4 linked regions of the Homo sapiens genome follow. The protein of the gene in region 2 purifies or fractionates together with the protein of the main gene of each other region. This does not show direct contact. Each region holds a gene or a part of one and is shown on either strand. Other genes may lie near its edges.

Evidence for each region.
Region 1: the proteins of CETN3 (region 2) and CCP110 purify together in Homo sapiens (co-immunoprecipitation; one large-scale study listed by IntAct). This does not show direct contact.
Region 3: the proteins of CETN3 (region 2) and SFI1 purify together in Homo sapiens (affinity purification with mass spectrometry; one large-scale study listed by BioGRID and IntAct). This does not show direct contact.
Region 4: the proteins of CETN3 (region 2) and HADHA purify together in Homo sapiens (affinity purification with mass spectrometry, with the first as the bait; one study listed by BioGRID). This does not show direct contact.

What each region holds. Positions count from the first base shown.
Region 1 is NC_000016.10:19,540,820-19,545,567, reverse strand, and holds part of CCP110 (centriolar coiled-coil protein of 110 kDa), read right to left. Parts: intron 3,682-4,748; coding exon 3,504-3,681; intron 2,948-3,503; coding exon 2,808-2,947; intron 2,691-2,807; coding exon 2,574-2,690; intron 772-2,573; coding exon 670-771; intron 475-669; coding exon 358-474; intron 1-357.
Region 2 is NC_000005.10:90,402,226-90,407,908, forward strand, and holds part of CETN3 (centrin-3), read right to left. Parts: intron 5,610-5,683; coding exon 5,474-5,609; intron 3,575-5,473; coding exon 3,460-3,574; intron 1-3,459. UniProt on the Homo sapiens protein: Plays a fundamental role in microtubule-organizing center structure and function. As a component of the TREX-2 complex, involved in the export of mRNAs to the cytoplasm through the nuclear pores.
Region 3 is NC_000022.11:31,611,414-31,616,161, reverse strand, and holds part of SFI1 (protein SFI1 homolog), read right to left. Parts: intron 4,397-4,748; coding exon 4,322-4,396; intron 3,021-4,321; coding exon 2,946-3,020; intron 2,809-2,945; coding exon 2,632-2,808; intron 2,561-2,631; coding exon 2,307-2,560; intron 1,374-2,306; coding exon 1,302-1,373; intron 1,115-1,301; coding exon 883-1,114; intron 1-882. UniProt on the Homo sapiens protein: Plays a role in the dynamic structure of centrosome-associated contractile fibers via its interaction with CETN2.
Region 4 is NC_000002.12:26,198,507-26,203,254, forward strand, and holds part of HADHA (trifunctional enzyme subunit alpha, mitochondrial precursor), read right to left. Parts: exon of another isoform or gene 3,814-4,748; coding exon of another isoform or gene 3,727-3,813; intron 2,815-3,726; coding exon 2,643-2,814; intron 1-2,642. UniProt on the Homo sapiens protein: Mitochondrial trifunctional enzyme catalyzes the last three of the four reactions of the mitochondrial beta-oxidation pathway.

The DNA.
Region 1 (4,748 bases), on a different chromosome or scaffold from region 2:
TATACTTCAAATTAACTTGGAGCCTGTTTTCTAACTCAGATTTCAAAAAAAGCAAAACCCACATTATAATTGAATTCAAGGAAATTCAATCAGGAGCAGCTGATAGATTGTATAAGCCATCTGAGCAAAACATTCAAAGCTTCAACTCTAAAATCCAATAAGAAAACAATATGTAATTCTTAAATGATGTAATTCTTTTAAATCTGTCTACAGATTTAAATGCTGCTAGTAATTCCAGGAATTACTTGTGCTTAAGAATTATCAGAAGAAGGGTGCTGAAGTCAACCAAAACTGACATTTAGTATCAATTACCCTAAACCCAGAAGAACTCTATTCATTAGAAATCATATAACATACCATTTGCCTGAGCATTTTCTCTTTGCGAACTTCTCGATCATGATGTAGAATAGACATTCTTTCAGCTGCATCCATTACAAAGAATATGTCATGAATACCGTACAAGGCAGCTCGCAACTAGGCACAAGAGAAGAAAATATTGTATACATTTAAAAGATGAGGTTAGAGTTCAGGAATACTATATACCATGTACACTTATTTATAGAAAAAGATTAAAATAGTTTTCATTGAAACCTATTTTCAGTGATTAAATAAAAAAGGAGAAATATAATATGTCCATGTCTTAAAAGCCTTCAGGATCCATGTATTTACCTGAGCTAACACTCTTTCCTGAAGTGAAGCATCTTGAGCTGAAACAATGCCTCTCTTTAATGGTGCTTCTGACTGAAAACTTCTTATGAATTCCATAGTATCCTGAAAAAAGAAATGCTCCTTCAAAAACATTTTTCTAGAAAGATTTGTGATCACTGGAGTTTGCTTTTTTCTTTTTCTCAGTCAATCCAAAATTACAGTCTTTCGTCAGTATCTGTGGGGGACTGGTTCCATGAATCCCTCAGATACCAAAATCCAAGGATGCTGGAGTCCCTTATATAAAATAGTTATCTGCATATAACCTAAGCACATCTCCCATATACTTTAAATCATCTCTAGATTAGTTAAAATACCTAATAAATGTACATGCTATGTAAATAGTTGTTATATTGTTTAGGAAATAATGACAAGGAAAAAAAATTTGTACATGTTCAGTACAGACACAACCATCATTTGTTTTTTCTGAATTATTTTTGATCCATGGTTCGTTGAATCCACAGATGTGGAACCCAGAGATAGAGGACCGACTGTACTAAGAACATAAATAAAACTATTACTTATCAGAAGTCAAACCACTCACTTTCAAGCAAGTCAAAAACACACAAACTGCTTCATTTACATGTTATTCATAATATTATCTGAGAAAGATTAACGATTATTGGGGGGACCAGCCCCCAATATTTCAACATAGGTTCTTTCTATTTTTCATAAGTGTCAGCCAGATGAGAAATAAAGAGAAAGAGTACAAAGAGAGGAATTTTACTGCTGGGCGTCCGAGGGGGACATCACATATTGGTAGGACCATGATGCCCACCTGAGCCTTAAAGCCAGCAAGTTTCATTAAGGATTTCAAAAGGGGAGGGGGTGCAAGAACAGGGAGTAGGTCACAAAGATCACATGCTTCAAAGGGCAAAAAGGAGAACAAAGATCACATGCTTCTGAGGAAACAGGACAAGGGCAAAATCAGAACTACTGATAAGGGTCTATGTTCAGCTGTGCACGTATTGTCTTGATAAACATCTTAAAAGGAAACAGGGTTTGAGAGCAGAGAACTGGTCCGACCACAAATTTACCAGGGTGGAATTTCCCAATCCTAGTAAGCCTGAGGGTACTGCAGGAGACCAGGGCATATTTTAGTCCTTATCTCAACCGCATAAGACAGATACTCCCAGAGTGGCCGTTTATATACCTCCCCCCAGGGATGCATTCCTTCCCCAGGGTATTAATTATTAATATTCCTTGCTAGGAAAAGAATTTAGCAATATCTTCCCTACTTGCACGTCCGTTTATAGGCTCTCTGCAAGACGAAAAATATGGCTCTATTTTGCCCGACCTCGCAGGCAGTCAGTTATGGTTGTCTTCCCTTGTTCCCTGAAAAACGCTGTTATTCTGTTCTTTTTCAAGTTGCACTGATTTCCTATTGTTCAAACACACATGTTTTGCAATCAATTTGTAGAGTTAACACAATAGTGGTCCTGAGGTGACCTACATCCTCAGCTTATGAAGATAACAGGATTAAGAGATTAAAGACAGGCATAAGAAATTATAAAAGTATTAATTTTGGGAACTGATAAATGTCCATATTAAAATGAAATCTTCACAATTTATGTTCAGCAATTGAAGTAAAGACAGGAGTAAGAAATTATAAAAGTGTTATTTGGGAACTGATATATGTCCATATTAAAATGAAATCTTCACAATTTATATTCCTTTGCTGCGGCTCCAGCTGGTCCCTCCATTCGGGGTCCCTGACTTCCCGCAACAAACAATCAGACTTCTAAAACTGCCTAGATTACAGTGACTAAAAAGCGTTTAAGTTCTGAACTAATCTGTTAGCTCAGCTGTCACAAGACTGATAGAAACTAAGACAGAAGTGAAATACAAACGATTTACAGGAATCTTACTTTTACAGTTTGTCGAAGTTGCTTCAGCTTATCTGTCTGCATAAGTCTACGAGTAAGAAATCCTTTTGCCACTGCAGTTATTTTGTTAAATTTTGCTTGTATTTCCAGACTAAAAACCTAGGAGAAAGAAGACAGACACAATGTTTATTGGTGTTCATTTATACAGTCTAAGATAATATAGCTCTTAAGAAAAGATAAATAGATAGATGGACATGTATCATTAAGTTTACCCACTTGAGACCATCTAGTTTTGGCTCTTCCAAAAGGCCTTGTTACTGAGAGTTTGGTCAAGCCACTAGTTGATGATCCCCAGAGGTAGAATGGTGCTTCGTTTGCAGAAACAAAGCTATATTGCATGGCAGAATTTGTGAAACCTAGAGAAACATACATATAGTATTATACTTGATGTCATATAATTAGAATACGAAGAACATCCCAATAAACACTTGTGACACTCATTAAGAATAACAACTGCCTCCAAAAATGACCTACCTGCCGACTTAAAATATTTATGGACTTTAAAGCTTACATACCAGGTGGATCTTTTCAACACAAACAGCATCTCAGGATAATTGAGATATGAAGATAAGCTATTTAAAGGGACTAGGGAATTAGAGGTAATTCAAGATCACTCAGGAGAGAGCAAACTGTTTTCACTTGAAGTATATCACCTGCTGCATGAATGATCAGACTGGGCTCTAAGCCAAATTTCCTGATCTTTTCCTGGCAAAGGTAATCTTTGTTCACAAACATCTGCTCACAAGTCTTTGATCTCCTATCATGTCATTTTTCACTGGTTACTAAGCAGCTGGCAAAGAGGGTTGGACATGGAATCATTTGAAAACAGGAGATATAATCTTATAGTGTGCCAAATAAATATCTTACCGTAGGATCACTTTCCCAAATGTAAAAGGATTTTTAAATATTTACCAGAACTATTTGAATTTGAAGTATGGAGTGAGTCCGCTTGAGACAGCATTGTTTCCAGCAAACTAGAGTCACTTATTTTTCTCCATTCTAATTCCACTGCATTGTTAATGTCCAACTCAGAGGCTTCCGCTGTCATTGCCTTCTTCTCTTTTAACATTTTCTCCTGCTCTTCTATTTCCTATACATGAACAGTTTATTGTAACATGCTAAACCTTTTAATTATGTCCCAAAATGATATCATTTTAGGCTTAGCCAAAAGTACATGTAATTATCAGCAATTATTATTTATTTCAAGTTTTTCTTCCTCAAATTATCCTTCCTTCCTTCTCCCTTCCCTTCCCTTCCCTCCCTCCCTCTTTTCTTTTCTTTCCTTCCTTCCTTTCTCTCTCTCTCTCTCTCTCTCTCTCTCTCTCTCCTCTCTCTCTCTTTCTTGTTTCAAGAAACAGAATCTCGCTCTGTCCCCCAGGCTGGAGTGCAGTGGCACGATCTCGGTTCACTGCAATCTCCACCTTGCGGGTTCAAGTGATTCTCCTGCCTCAGTTTCCCAAGTAGCTGGGACTACAGGTCCATACACCACCATTTTGTATTTTTTAGTAGAGATGGGATTTCACTATATGTTGGCCAGGCTGGTCTCAAACTCCTGACCTCAGGTGATCCATCCACCTCGGCCTCCCAAAGTGCTGGGATTACAGGCGTGAGCCACCACGCCCAGGCTATAATTTAATATGTGATAATGTATAGTTAAATTATTAATTATAATAATATTATAACAAGTGTCGTTCTTTTTTTTTTTCTTTTTATAGAGACAGGGTCTCCCTCTGTTGCCCAGGCTGGAGTGCAGTGGCTAGACAAAGGCGAAATCATAGCTCACTGCAGCCTTGAATTTCTGGGCTCAAGCAATCCTCCCACCTCAGCCTCCTGCATAGCTGGGACTACAGGCTCATGATACCACGCCCAGCATGAGTGTCATTTTTATGATACAACTCCTGCAGAATGTGTACTTTAGCACCTATTTATAAAATACCTTTTTAAAATATTAAGCTTTAAATCAAGGATTCAATAAAATATTCTCGATAAATTATGCAATTACTTTTAGATAAGGATCTAAATATCAAAATTCATATTTTGACAAAAAATACCATTCACGTATCAAAATGACTCCCTTACCTTAAGATATATGGAGGCAAAAATTACACGTATTCTATACATGACCAAAATTCATAGGTATCCTTGGCTAAATTTCAC
Region 2 (5,683 bases):
AGTCTCTCTTCCTTCCAACTCATCATCAATAATACTCTCATCAGTTTTCTTTCTCAAACATATCATATCCCCTTCCCTTAAAAATTGTGAATGATCTCTGCTGACTAGAATTCAAAATCTTCATGTTTTGCAAGACTTTACCAATCTGGCCCAATCCTATGTTTCCAGTCATTTCCCTATGTCTAGCCCAGAACACTACCTAGTTTCCCAAACATGCTATCCGTCTAGTACCATTCTTTGTTGTTGCTGCTTTCTAAGCCTAGAATGCTTTTTCTCTACTCTTCCTGGCAATCTTGGAATGAAATCTTACTCACATTTCCAAAGGCCTAAATTTAAAATCTCCTCTGCAAAGACTTCAATTCCTCTAGATCAGGGATTAACAAATCTTTCCTGTAAAAGGCCAATAGTAAATATTTTAGGCTTTGTAGAGGGCCATAAAGTCTCTAACTACTCACTCTGCCATAGTAGCACAAAAGCTGCATAAAAGAAGGGGTGTGGTGGTGTACAAGCAGCAGCTGAATTTGGTCCAAAGGCTATAGTTGCTGACTTCTGTCCTAGACAAAATTACAATTTACCACATAGTACTATAGCCTGTTGTCACCTATATTTACATTGTAAACTCCCTGAAAGAAGAACCTTTTAGTAACTTTTAATTAAGTCTTCTTCCCAACCCCAGTACAGTACCTAATACCAAAAAATTCAGTGTTAAATAAGCAAAATGAAGACAATAATACAGTATTACAATCTCAATCAGCAATAATAAGTAGTACATGTCAAAAATAGTGTACAAACGTTTGACTTATGTTAGTCTTAAAGACACTAATTCCTAAAATATCTATGTTACTCACTAGCCTCAGGCTGTCTTGACTCTAAACTTAAATTAAATATATTTTAAAGCTTTTTTCCAGTACTAGGAAGAGTCTATAATAGTTAACTGCCAAACTTCATCCAGATATATCTGTGGAACAGTGTCCTTGGGTAGTTCATAAAACTAGGACTCAAATGTTATGATTTAGAATCATCTGTCCCAAAGTATAAAACATATTAATCTGTGGTCAGTGATTAGTTAAAAATAATCAACAAAAGGGGTAATACATAGTTCCTGAATGATTCCCAAACAGTAATACATTTTTATTTGACACCTGGTACTCTCCATAGGTAGCCTTAAGATAGCTAAGATACATGTTGACCCTGTCAAAAGGTTAATCTTTTAGTGTCAAAGCTGAAGTTTAGCCACATCTATTTATTCTAGAAGGAACCCAGTATTTCTGCTCTGTTAATAACATAGAACAGATGGGGTGTCAGGAAAAAGTGGAGGTGGCATGGGATTCTGGTCCCAACTGCCAATAAAAATCACAATTTTTGGCCGGGCGCGGTGGCTCACGCCTGTAATCCCAGCACTTTGGGAGGCCGAGGCGGGCGGATCACGAGGTCAGGAGATCGAGACCATCCCGGCTAAAACGGTGAAACCCCGTCTCTACTAAAAATACAAAAAATTAGCCGGGCGTAGTGGCGGGCGCCTGTAGTCCCAGCTACTTGGGAGGCTGAGGCAGGAGAATGGCGTGAACCCGGGAGGCGGAGCTTGCAGTGAGCCGAGATCCCGCCACTGCACTCCAGCCTGGGCGACAGAGCGAGACTCTGTCTCAAAAGAAAAAAAAAAAAAAAAAAAAAAAAATCACAATTTTTAAATTGTGTTCATTTAAGGTGAAATAACATATTTTGTAAAATTATTAGTGATGATACAGTGCTTACAATAGCCTTTATGAAAAAAGTCAATAAAAAATATACACAAAGTCTATTTTATGTCCCAGTGATGCATATATGATTATTTCGAGCCCCTGAAACAAAGACAATTTTTTAAAGTAATAATAATAGCAAATGCTTAGTAGCACTTACAACATGCTAGGCCCTTTTCTAGGTACTTCACATATCATTAACTTAATCCTTAGAAGAATCTCATGAGAGAATACAATGATCCCCACTTTATAGTTGAAAATGAGGCATGGGGTATTAAAAAGACCAAGTTCCAGAGCTGTAAAGTGGCAAAACCAAGGTATGAACCAAGGGAATCTGGTTCCAAGTGCTAAACCACTATACTGTACTAAACATACCTGGATTATAGCTCCTTCCTAATAGTACCATTTCCACTATATACAAACACCTTGTTTCTACAAATAAACAATCTAAGGTAAAACTAGGAATACTACGATCATAAACTTCAGGAGAGTGTCCATTCTGGGAGAACAAAAGGTGGCTCTCTCCCTTTCCTCAAATAATTAATTCTACAAATTAGAGGAAAAAAGGAAAATGTCCCCAATGGACAAGTTGCCTCTCTAAACAGTCATATATTAGTTCATAAGTTGAGGATCTTCTGTGCTGTGTTTTTTTTCTCTTAGGTTCATCATTTATTTTCCATCTCAACTGCTTATGACTTGAGCTTTTGGATTTAAAAAACTGACTAATGACATGAATCTAAATTTTCTCTGCGTCTACTAATTGCCATTTCTTTTTGCTTCCCCTATTGCTTCTTGATTAATATTTAAAATAAGGGGTTTGTGTATATAGCAGAATTTGTTTCCAAATTTTTAAAATATCTTAAAATACTTATATGATGTGCTTATATCGTGACCCATTGGTTTAGAGAAAAAAAAAAAAAGAAATAAACCTGAATATTTACATATTTTGTAGATAATATTCTAGACAATACATTTAAGTTATAATAGCAACATCCTTGCCTTCCGGACTCTTCTATTTTGAAAAAGCCTGGTCTATATATGCTATAAATAATTCACTAAAATCAACTATAAAAAAATTTAGCCATATTAAGCCTATGACACATTATCTTCAGTTGGTGGTACTAGGATGTTTTCTCCTGCTTCCAGTATGCCCACTGCCTCCTTTACTACTACCCTCTAAACAGATGACTTTATCCACTGAGATCAAGGTCATCCAGAGGATGTAGCCTCTCATAAACTTTGTCAACCTGAAGTCGTGCATTTCATCTACAGCCAAAGATACCAACTACTACCAGTTCCCTCTTCTCCCACTTAGCCAACAAAAATCACATACCAGAAAGGTCTTGGGAAACATTTTCCAAACAGCAGGATATCAAATTTTCTGTTTTATTAAGCAAAAATAATTTTTTGATCACCCTTCAAGTTTTATCACATAATATAAATACAAACAACTTGGAAAAGCATCTTTCTATAAAAAGCTACACAATAGTTCCTTGGTTAGAATCTTCACAACAAAACAAAAGACAAAACTATAAATCTCAGAGCAAAGCCATATTTTTTCTTTGAAAAAAAAACCAACAAAACAAAACTGAGTAAGAGTCACATTATACACCAGTGTTCTATAAGAAAATTCCATAACCTAGAGAATTTAAAATTTAAAAAGTGATATTAATCAGACAATTTCCTAACAGCTGCTGATTACAAAGACTATTAAAATACACACCAACTTCATTAAAATCTTCAAAGGTGATTTTCCCTGTGGCTTCTCTGTCATAATCTTTAAGAATCTTCAGTACATCAGCTTTTTTTACATCAAACCCCAAGGCTCTCATTGCCACCTTTTGGATTAAAAAGGAAAAGCAAATTATAAAGCACTCTTTACAAAAGAATTTCTAATTATTAAGTTTTTACATCTTAAGAGATGACAACACATTAATAAAATATAACTTTTTTGCATGTTTTACCTCTTTAAAATAGCAGTGATAGTGTAATTGTTCTTCACTACTGAAATTAAGTATGCATAAGTTTTTTCATTTATAAATTGCATTTTTTATATGACAAAGTAACCAACAAGTGTTTACAGATTTTACTATATAAAATGCACTAACTTATTGCACAGATAATTTGATTGTTATTTGTTCTGAAGGGATTAACAATCAAAATGAGAAAAAGGCGTGGCATAAATATTAAACAGTTACATGATAGAAGAGATAAAACATTAAAACAAGAATTATCATCAGTCTTTCCATGATTAGTTACCAGGTAAATGATAGGGCTAAGGACCCTGAGTTTAGAGAAAAAAGAGATTTTGTTACTAATAATAAGGAAGGAGACATATTACTGACTAGAGAAGTCTTATTTGGAAAGATTCAAACTGTTCCTTGAAGGATAGATGAAGAGGAGCAGTAGGGTATTTGGGAAGGATGACTGGTATTAAAAGAAACACTGAAACGAATAGGTTCGAAGGACAATGAACAGAGCAGTTTACCTCACCTGAATTAGAAAAGTTCAGGTGAGGTAAACTGCTCACCTGAATTAGGAGGTGAATTCCACCTTAATTAGAAGAGTTCAGGAGGAAGAAAGCAGTTAGCAAATGAAAAAAGTAGTTGGTGGCAAAAGTGTAGAGAACATTCAGTAGAAAGCAAAGGAATCTGAACTTTAAGTAGTATACAATGAGGAGTTATGGTTTATGAGCAATGAACAATTTATGAGCAATGGTGAAAGAATTTTTAAACTATCTAAATTCAGTGGTAGTGTACAAGGTGAACTAGTAAGAAATCATTTAGGAAGCTCCAGGTATGAAATAAGGTCCCAAACCAAGATAGTCAATGGTTACAAATGGAACAGACATTATAAAGGAAGATCAAATCTGGGTAACCAAAAAAAAAAAAAAACAAAAAAAACAGTGGGAAAAGAGAGCCAAAGAGGACTGCAAGATTGAGAAAGCTAGACTTAGCAGGCCTATTAACTGCTTTTATACATTCTATCCTGTCACTGCATAGTTCCTATCCCTACTTGGAATTCTAATGCTTAAAAATCCCTTACGAAATTACAAAAATTAAAACTACCAAATAAACACTTACATTCACCTATCCATTAAGGCCATTAAAAATCTCAAAATACTATCTTTCCCACTGTGCTGAAAGTAAGTCCCATTCTACCCTAAACCCAAATCTCTCCTTATACCCTGACAAATAATAATTTACAAATCTCTCCCTACACTTTGACATTCTAGGTCTTAAAGCTGACATTTTTACCTATTAGCATGTGTCAACATCAAACAGCACTAAAGTTGTTTGCACCAGAGAAAGTGGATTGAGACTATGTTACTAACAAATCCAAATTATAAGATTAAAAGACAACACTCCCACAGTCTGAAAACAGTATGAGTCACCAAGAAACAAAAACAAAAACAAAAAACAGTGAAAAGAAGATGGTAAGAATAAATTCCAGTTTGAAATCCTTTAATTATGACAGTGAAAAATAAGCACCTTCCCTGGGAATGTATTTTTACATTTAAAATACTATTCGTTTTCTCATGTGAAAAAGATTTTCTAAAAACTATGTTAGGAGTTCTCTTCAGTTTTATTACAGCATCTAACTATGAATGCTTAAAATGCCTTCATAGTTCCAAAACCAATTTAGTTAAAATAATTATTTAGAAATGTAATGTAAAGCAACTGTAAAAATGCAAATCATTTTAACACAGAAACAAATATTTTAAAGTATACCATTACCTTTAATTCATGATAATCTATTGCTTCATCTTTGTCTGTATCAAATAGTTCAAAAGCATCTTTAATTTCTTGTTTCTGTTCCTCAGACAGTTCTCTTCTTTTTTTCCTCTTTGTTTTGTCCACTACAAGCTCACTTCTATGAAATGGAAAGAAAAAGCCCTTAGTCCACTTTAATTCTCTTTACTAACAGAAATTAGCCAATAATTACCT
Region 3 (4,748 bases), on a different chromosome or scaffold from region 2:
GAGCAGCTGTCACTTCCATTACTGAGCTCTCACACCCCCTGGCCATCCCCACCCAGGCTCCCTGCTTGGAGCCTCCTCCCCTCTCTCCTTCCCCTGTACTCTCCTCCTAGAGGCCGCAGTGGCTCTGGGGTTACCTTCGGCCTGTGCTGAAGATTCTTCTCAATCTCTGGCCCTGACCTCTTCCTTGAAGGTCAGACTCAACGTTTGCTTTCTCTCAAATTTGACATCAAGAGCCTGGTTCAAAACACTCTTGACACTTCACCCCAAACCAGTCCCCACCCCCAGTTCCTTCTTCCAGTCAAAGAACTCTGTTTCCCAAGTTATTCAAGCCAGCAGCCCACATCAGCCTGGATTCCTTCTTTCCCCTCATTCAGCAACTCCCTCAGAGCAGCATATCCTGCCTCATCTGCCTCCAAGAGAGTACCTGTCCCCTCTGTGGCAACCGCTGAGCCCAGGCCACCAGTACTACTTGCCTGGACCACGTGGTCATGGTGACCACAGCCTGCACAGAAACCTGACATGGTGCTCCCTGCCAAAACCCTTCCCCGACTTCCTACTCTTCTCAAATCCCAGGCTACTTCTCACTGTGGCCTGCAGGACCCTACGTGATCTGCAGCCACTTTACTGGCCTGCAGGCAGGGGTTTTTCTTTGCTTGTCTCTGACTAGAATATAAGCTTCAGGATGGCAGGGCCCTTGGCTGGCTGTTCACTGCTGTGGCCCTTGGACCTGGTGTGCAGTGGCTACCTATGCTTGTCAAATGGATGAGTGGCCTCCCTGTGCCAAGGTTTTCCAGAAACTAGTACAGCTGTGGCATGAGAAAGCACCAGAAGTCAGACCAGAGTGAGAGCCCCAGTGCCCAGGCCTGGTGGTGGAGGACGTACCCTGGCTGGTGCAGCCGCCCCGCAGGGCATGAAGGAGGAAAGAGGCAGCAGCAGCAGCTCCGGGCCTGTGCTTGCCGTCGGGGGCTGCTTCGGGCCAGGGGCGCTTGACAGGGCCCCAGGCAGGGGGCTGTGTGGGACCAGTGCTGTCGGGGCCTCTGCCAGGAAGGGCCGCGTCAGGGAGGGGGCTGCTGGCTGAGCCATGCCTAGGCCATGTTCCTGTGGCTTCTGAGGCCTGAGCACAGGGAAGGCAAGAGCCTGGTCAGGCCACAGGACCCTCCTCTGGGACCAAAGAACAAGAAGGAAAGGGGGCCACCCACCCCAGGGCTGCCAAAACACAGGCCCCACATGGAGGTGCCCGCTGCCTTTGGGGACCCCTGACCATCTCCCCCTGCCTGCCCACGGTGCTGCACCCCAGGGACCTCTGGCTCTGCGCAGGCTCCAACAGGAAGTGTGGGCGTCGCGGCTGCTTCCTCGCTGAGTGGGCAGTGTTGCTGGAAAGAAACATGGGGTCTGTTCCCCTGGGCTGACCAGGGGCTGCAGGGGGGTCTGAGATCTCTGTGGGATCTCCAATTTTATAGGGAGACTGAAAGTCAGGAAAGGCGAGGCCAAGGTCAGCAAGTAAGCTGGGGTGGGCCTGGGCCATAGAGCTCCCAGCAGTTCCGACAAAAGGTACCTGACGCCAGGGGACTGCTTCACCCACATTGTCTCTTTTGACCTGCAGAACAACCCTGGTGACGCTGGTGTACAGGTCGCCAGGGTCCATGTCACAGGGGAGCAGCCTCTGAGACGTTCAGGATCCCATCAAGGTCAGTCAAACAGTGAGGAGCACAGCAGGGACCGGGACCCAGGCCCCATGCACCCACCTGACATCTCCCCCGAGGCCCAAGGCTCTCGGGTAGTGCTGGTTGCTGTGGGAGCCACCAGCTTCATCAGCATGGGGCAGGGCAGGTTAGGGTTTGAGGAGACCATAGTAGGGGTGGGCAGAGGGACAGGTGCCAGCTCACACAAGAAAGAGGGGCTTCTGACAAAAAGCCAGTGTCTTGGCTGTGATGGAGCAGAAGAGAGGCCGGCAGGCACGGGTAGGAGCTGAGCTTGTTCCCTTTGTCAACTACGTGTATGACTCCGGAAAAGATCGTGTCAGCAGGACGGGAGAGAGGGTAGGAAGGTGTTGCAGAGGAGGGGACACCTATTTCCTGAGCTTTGGCAGGCAAAGGAGAGAGGGTTTGGAAATCCCACTCCATTCTCTCCCTCTTGCCGTGGGAGGGATGGGATCTGGCTGGAGAAGAGGGGGTTCCCAGCAGCTCAGCTGTGACAAGGCCGTGACCAGCCCGTCCCATCCCGTCAGGGCTGTTTTCCTCCCTGCTATGCCATCCAACCTTTTGCCCAGGGTGGAAGCGAGGACAAGGTGAGCACAGGCTACTCACAGCTCCAGGGCGTGGGGCTCCTCAGCAGCCAGGCGGCCCAGAGCTCCCAGAGGCCGAGAAGCCTGTGGCCTCTTGGTCTCAAGGGTGCCATCCCCAGCCCCAGCAGCAATGCGGTTGAGAAGGGGACCCTCAAACGTCACTTTCCTGCTGGGTGCGATGGCTGCCAGGGGCTGAGGCTTCCCGCCCCGGCCCAGCACTTTCTGTTTCCAGAGCGTGGCACAGCGGCGGACGGCACGATGGAGACTGTGAGCCGCCTACAACACAGCCTCTGGTCAGCTCATGCCACACCCTGCCTGCTCCCCACAGGAAGGGGCCCTGGGCCTACCTGGACCTGCTGCTGGGCCTGCAGCTGCTGCCGGGAGGCCTTCATGCTGGCTGCAAAGCGCAGGAGCCGCGTGGCACCCTCCTGGAGGAGCTGCCCCTGGTAGGCCTGGAGCGCCCACTGCAGCCGCGCCTTCTTTCTCCTCCTTTCCAGTACAAAGGCCAGCCACGTGGCCCACACCTCCAGGGAGGGCAGGAGGTGAGGCCCAGGTCTCCCTGCTTAGAGCTCCCCCACAGACCAGGTGCCCTCCCTCCACCCAAGGCAGGGCTAAGGCCTGAGGGAGAGGCAGGGATGGTAGGATGCAGAGCCCCAATTACCTTTGCCTGCAGCGAGAAGGCCCAGAACCACAGGGCCCGCACTGTCGCCCGCTGCTCCTGCCTCCTGGCTGCCAGCTAGGGCCAGAAAGACCAGATCATTTCCCTATAGCCCCTTCAAGGAGGCCGTGGTGATCACGGGGCCCTGCCCAGCTCGTCCCTCTTGGCTCCCTCTCTAGTCGAGGCTCCCACTTCCTCCACTAGGAAGGGCCAGCCTTGTGCCTGGCGGTGAGATGCTCAACACACGCTCCATCTGTGGCCTGAGGAATGACCTTCATGAAAGAAGGTGGCAAAGGGCTCCTGCAGGGGGATGCGTGGAGGCAGCGGCCTGAGGTCCGGGGAATGGTGAAAACAGGACAACAGAACGGGAAGAGGGAGCTGGGGACGTGTGGATGCTGCTCTGTGTGATCCCTCTTGGCTTTTTAAAAAGCAAGATCCCAGCAAAGCCTTAAAACACATTTCATGTTAATTTTTAAGATATTATGCTGATTTTTCTTTTTGAGATGGAATCTCACTCTCATCCAGGCTGAAGTGCAGTGGCATGATCACAGCTCACTGCAACCTTGACCTCCCGGGCTCAAGCAATCCTCCCGCCTCAGCCTCCCGAGTAGTTGGGACCACAGGTGTGCACTGCCTACACCCAGCTAATTTTTCTGTTTTGTTTTTGTAGAGATGGGGTCTCACTATGTTGCCCAGGCTGGTCTTGAACTTCTGGGCTCAAGTGATCCTCCTGCCTCGGCCTCCCAAAATCCTGGGATTATAGGCGTGAGCCATCATGCCCGGCCCACTGATTATATATATATATATATATATATATATATTTTTTTTTTTTTTTTTTTTTAGACAGAGTCTCGCTCTGTTGCCCGGGCTGGAGTGCAGTGGTGCTATCTCAGCTCACTGCAAGCTCTGCCTCCCAGGTTCACGCCATTCTCCTGCCTCAGCCTCCCGAGTAGCTGGGACTACAGGCGCCCACCACCACGCCTGGCTGATTTTTTTTGTATTTTTAGTAGAGACGGGGTTTCACCGTGTTAGCCAGGATGGTCTCGATCTCCTGACCTCATGATCCGCCTGCCTCGGCCTCCCAAAGTGCTGGGATTACAGGCGTGAGCCACTGCGCCCGGCCTCCACTGATGTATTTTTTAATACAACACTGTAGAGAGAGAAACTGGCCTTGAAGTAACTGTTCTTATGCAGACTGCAGACGGAAGGAAGCTGATGTGCCTGGAAATGACAGGAAGGTGGTAGAGGAGGTGGCCCTGGGGAGGGTGATAGTAAAAATACTGAACTAGAGGTGTAGGCTGAAGGTCATTCACTGCCCAGGCCTCACAGGCCAGAGGATGGAGAAGGAAGTGCAGAGGGGACATCTCCTGGGTTCCCACCTGTTGTCTCCACTGGCGGAAGCAGGTCCGGCTGAGTCTCTGTGCCAGCAGTTGGGTGCTCTGCCTGTGCAGGAGCTGGGGGAGAGCAAGTGCACAGAGAGTGGCGTCCTGACCCAGCCTAGACAGCCTGGGGTGGGTCCTGATCTAACCCAGCCTCTGCCCAGCTGAATGTCCTCCCATTGCTAGGAGTCCTGGATGGTGCCAGGGGTCTCCTGCATAGGCAGGGAGTGCCGCCTAGAGGACTCACTCTGTAGGTCCCCCAGCACTGATAAGCCACGGGTCAGCATGAACCGGGTTTTTCCGCTGAGCCGTCTTCCCTGGGAGACACTGGATTCTGGGGCTGGCTACTCGCTAGGCTCCACCAAACGCCCAGAAAGGCTCCTGCAGCTTTGTCTTACAGGACCCCAAACCACCCACCACTCATACC
Region 4 (4,748 bases), on a different chromosome or scaffold from region 2:
CGTGGAAGGGACACCTGTCAAATGTGTGCAAATCTGGAACAGGCAGAATCCTAACAGAGATGAGAATCAAGGAGGAAGACACATTCAACACACTGAAAAGCTGAGTACAAAATAAGATTATAATGCAATAAAAGTAAAGTACTGCCTTAAGATTTAAAAAAAAAAGGAAAGAAAAGAACTGTATAGGTACTTGAAGGACAAGACCTGGCTTGGCAGTATTTGTGATAAAGATCCCATGATTTTAGTTAATCAAGAGTGGAGGGTGGGCATGGTGGCTAAACAACTATAATCCCAACACTTCAGGAGGCCAAGGATGGAGGATTACTTGAGGCCAGGAGTTCAAGACCAACCTCGGCATCATAGTGAGACCCTATATCTACAAAACATAACTTTTTTTTTTTTTTTGGAGACAAAGTCTTGCTTTTTCGCCCAGGCTAGAGTGCAGTGGTGCAATCTCAGCTCACCGCAAGCTTTGCCGCCTGGGTTCAAGCAATTCTCCTGCCTCAGCCTCCCGAGTAGCTGGGATTACAGGCACCTGCCACCATGCCTGGCTAATTTTTTTGTAGTTTTTAGTAAAGACAGGGTTTCATCATCTTGGCCAGGCTGGTCTTGAACTCCTGACCTCGTGATCCACCCGCCTCAGCATCCCAAAGTGCTGGGATTACAGGTGTGAGCCACAGTGCCCGGCCCTACAAAAAATAACTTTAAAAAACTAGCCAGGCATGGTGGTACATACCCATAGTCCTAGTTACTCAGGAGGCTGAAGTGAGAGGCTCGCTTGAGCCCAGGAGTTCAAGGTTACAGTGAGCTGTGATCATGCCACTGCACTCCAGCCTGGGTGACAGAGTGAGACCCTGTCTCTAACAACAAAAAAACAAAACAAAAGTGGAATGAATTGACAGTACAGCATGACTGTCAGAAAGCTTACGTAGTGTCAGGTTACTTTCTTAGTAATATAGTGTCTAATGCTGGTGGTGAAATCCTTTCTGAAGAGCAAACTAATGTCTCCAAAGCTGGCTGGCAAACATTCTTCCCTTCCTTGGACATGTATGTCTTTTCTCCCAGCTAGAAGTAGAGTCTGTTTCCCTTCTCCTTGAATCTGGGCTGGTCTTGTGACTTGTTTTTATCAACACAATGCAGCAGAAGTTACCCTGCCAGTTCCAGGCCTACCTAGACCTGTGGGGCCCGGTAGCCTCTTTTTTTATTTTTTAAATTATTTATCTTTTTTTCTTCCTGACAATAAACTTAGGAAGCTCAGTAGCTTCTGCTTTTGTTCTCTTGGAAGCCTGCAGCCACGCTACAAAGAAGTTGTGGTGAGACGACTAAGTGAGGATGGACTATGAGAGATGTGGGGGAAGCAGTGAGGTGCCCCAACCGAGCTTCCTGCGGAATGCAGCCCAGGAGTGACCCCAGCCTTGAAATCAATGGACTTAAGCACCACTGTCTCTGCAGAGCCCTGCCCAGATTGCAGAATTGTGAAAAGATAGTTGTAAACACAGCAGTAGAACACGGAGACATGAGGAAGATACTAGAGAGGACAACCGAAACGGGGTGGTCTAGAGATCATGCCTGTGGAAGATTGTCCAAGGAATGGGTTTTGTTAGCTCTATGGGCAATAAGAGAAGATAATGTTTGTTTGTTTGTTTATTTATTTATTTTGAGACGGAGTTTTGCTCTGTGGTACTCTTATTTTTTGTAATGAGCTCACTGCTCATTATATCCAGCATGTTGCCAAGTCAGAATCATTTCATGTTCACCTTTCAGTAACCCACATTCTGTTTATCCAACTGTAGACTAGCTTAGGCCTTGGTCCTACCTCATCCCTGAATTACTGCTATTACTCCTTCTCGGGGCTTACTCTTCCTACTCCCCACTTCAAGTACTTGTTTTGTTCATGTCAGCCCATCTCAAGAAGTGCCTATGGAGAACATTTGGGAGCTGGGCCAAAGCAGCATTTCCACAGAACAAGCATCTGGACGAACTGTCTTCCCTATTTCCTTTGCAGCCTTAGACCTGAAGAGGTTTGTTTTTGGCTTTCGGCTAACCAAAAAATCTCAAAGCATCTGGCTATACTCTGTGAGGTTATCTGTATGTTTGGGTGACAGAGCTCCTACATGAATAAGGTGAACGCACCCTCATTTTCTTCCTTTAGAATTTAGATTTGACCTTTATAACATATGCAGTGTGCATGAGCACACATAAAAACTTAACGTTTGATAACAAAAAGTCTTTTTTTTTTTTTTGGAGATGGAGTCTCGCTCTGTCACCCAGACTGGAGTGCAGTGGCGTGATCTCGGCTCACTGCAACCTCTGCCTCCCAGGTTCCAGTGATTCTCCTGCTTCAGCCTCCCAAATAGCTGGGACTACAGGTGTGTGCCACCATGCCCGGCTAATTTTTGTATTTTCTAGTAGAGATGGGGTTTCATCATATCGGCCAGTCTGGTCTCGAACTCCTTACCTCGTGATCCGCCCACCTCAGCCTCCCAAACTACTGGGATTATAGGCGTGAGCCACCATGCCCAGCCTTTGAATAGTCCTTTTTATAAAAGCAATCATGAGTTTCCTATAGCTCCTTTAAAAAAAAAATCTCTGTGTTTTCTGTTCACTACACTAGGATTCAAGTACAACAGCCCCTTGCTTACCGCTTCTACTTCCTTTAGCACTCTGTGCTTAAGACTAAGGTCCTCAAACACAGCTTCAATCACCATGTCGGCCTTTTCAAAACCTTGGTAATCAAGCTGCCCAGTCAAGTTGCTGAAGATGGAATCCCTTTCAAATGATGTTAGAGCTTTCTTCTTCACTTTGTCATTCAATCTAGAAAAAACACATTCCTAGTTAGATGGGAAGAAAAGGAAACTAACGTTTATTGAATGTCCATGGGCCAGAGCACACCTGTGTTTTTCACCAACTCTGTGAGGTAGTTATTCTATTACTCCCATTTTGAGGGAGACTTTCAAGTTGTTTAGTCTTAGAGGGACCTGTGGTCAAATAGCTTGATAAGGGAGGGTGCTAGCATTCAAAGACATGTTAACTCCCAAGTACACATTCTTTCTACCATAGAATGCCTCCAAATGCCCAATTTACGTAAACTAAATCACTCTTAAACCAGTTAAATTTGCCAAGAGGAGTAAATAACATGAATACTAGAATGGCAAAACAAAAGAGGAGTTCTGGTAATTCTCTACCTATGACAGGGGAAGCAGCCAAAGTGTGTCTGAGACCACATGGTTTATATTTGCTTATCGCAAATATATAATTTTATGTTATTCTGTAGTTGTAATCTTTTTTTTTTTTTATTTATTTTTTGAGACGGAGTCTCGCTCTGTTGCCCAGGCTGGAGTGCAGTGGCGTGATCTCAGCTCACTGCAACCTCTTGTCTCCTGGGTTCAAGCAATTCTCTGCCTCAGCCTCCTGAGTAGCTGGGATTACAGGCGCCCACCACCACGCCTGGCTAATTTTTTTTTTTTTTTTTTTAGTAGAGATGGGGTTTCACCATCTTGGCCAGGCTGGTCTTGAACTCCTGACCTCGTGTTCCATCCGCCTCAGCCTCCCAAAGTGTTGGGATTATAGGCGTGAGCCACCGCGCCCAGCCTGTGGTTGTAATCTTCTAAAGAACAGAGACCAAGCATTATTTCCTATATTCTCCATCTACTTCCCACTCATTACCTAGTAGCACATTGCACTGATTACATAAAATATTAACTCAAGGTTTCTTTTTTCCCATAGGGAGCAGAAAAGGATTCCTGTTATTCAGACATTCAACTGATTATTTTTCGTCGCCAAGGGAAACAGGTTCTCTTAGATTCCGTCTGACCACACTTTCAGAATAAATTACCTACAGTTTTCCTCTAAATGAAGAATGAAGCTAAACCCCATTCACTAATTTCCTTAACCAAAAGCAAAATTAAGGCCACAAGATAAATACAAAGGAGTATTCAAAGAAGGTCTTAAGGGCTGGGCATGGTGGCTCACATCTGTAATCCCAGCACTTTGGGAGGCTGCAGCAGGCGGATCACTTGAGGCCAGGAGTTCAAGACAAGCCTAACCAACATGGTGAAATCCCGTCTCTATAAGAAAAACAAAAATCAGCTGTGCATGGTGGCGCATGCCTGTAGTCTCAGCTATTCGTGAGGCTGAGGCATGAGAATCGCTTGAACCCGGGAGGCAGAGGTTGCAGTGAGCCAAGATTGCACCATTGTGCTCTAGCCTCGGTAATAGAGTGAGACTGTCTCAAAAGAAACAAAAACATCAAATAAGGTCTTAAAAGTATGGGCTCAAAGCTTTTGTTTTTGACAATCATGACAGCAGTCAGCAAACAAGATACTTGTCAGCATTCAAAACATTATCAGTTGCTCTAATTCTAATGCCTGATTAAACTATTCCCAAGAGAGGACAGGAACTATTGTCCCAAGTCAGCAGTGTGGTGAGCGGCACTCGCCAGAACCTGATGTTTCTAAGACGAAAAGGGGAACCCAGGACACTATTCAAGAGAGACTGGGGGAGGAAACTATTTTAGAGCAACAATTTCTTACTTTGGTGATGGTATGGAATGCTGTTTGGGATGCTTGCATGCTAGTTTCAGGGCACTGCTGCTATCTAGCACACATCATTTTTTTGGTCAGAATCTTCTACTACAACTTGTTATCTTACAATAATCTGCCAACACGATGAAACCTGCCAGGTCCTGGTTAGCATTATGGCAGCAATATGTGAGCTTCTCTGCAGAAAAGGGATAACAACATGCTTAA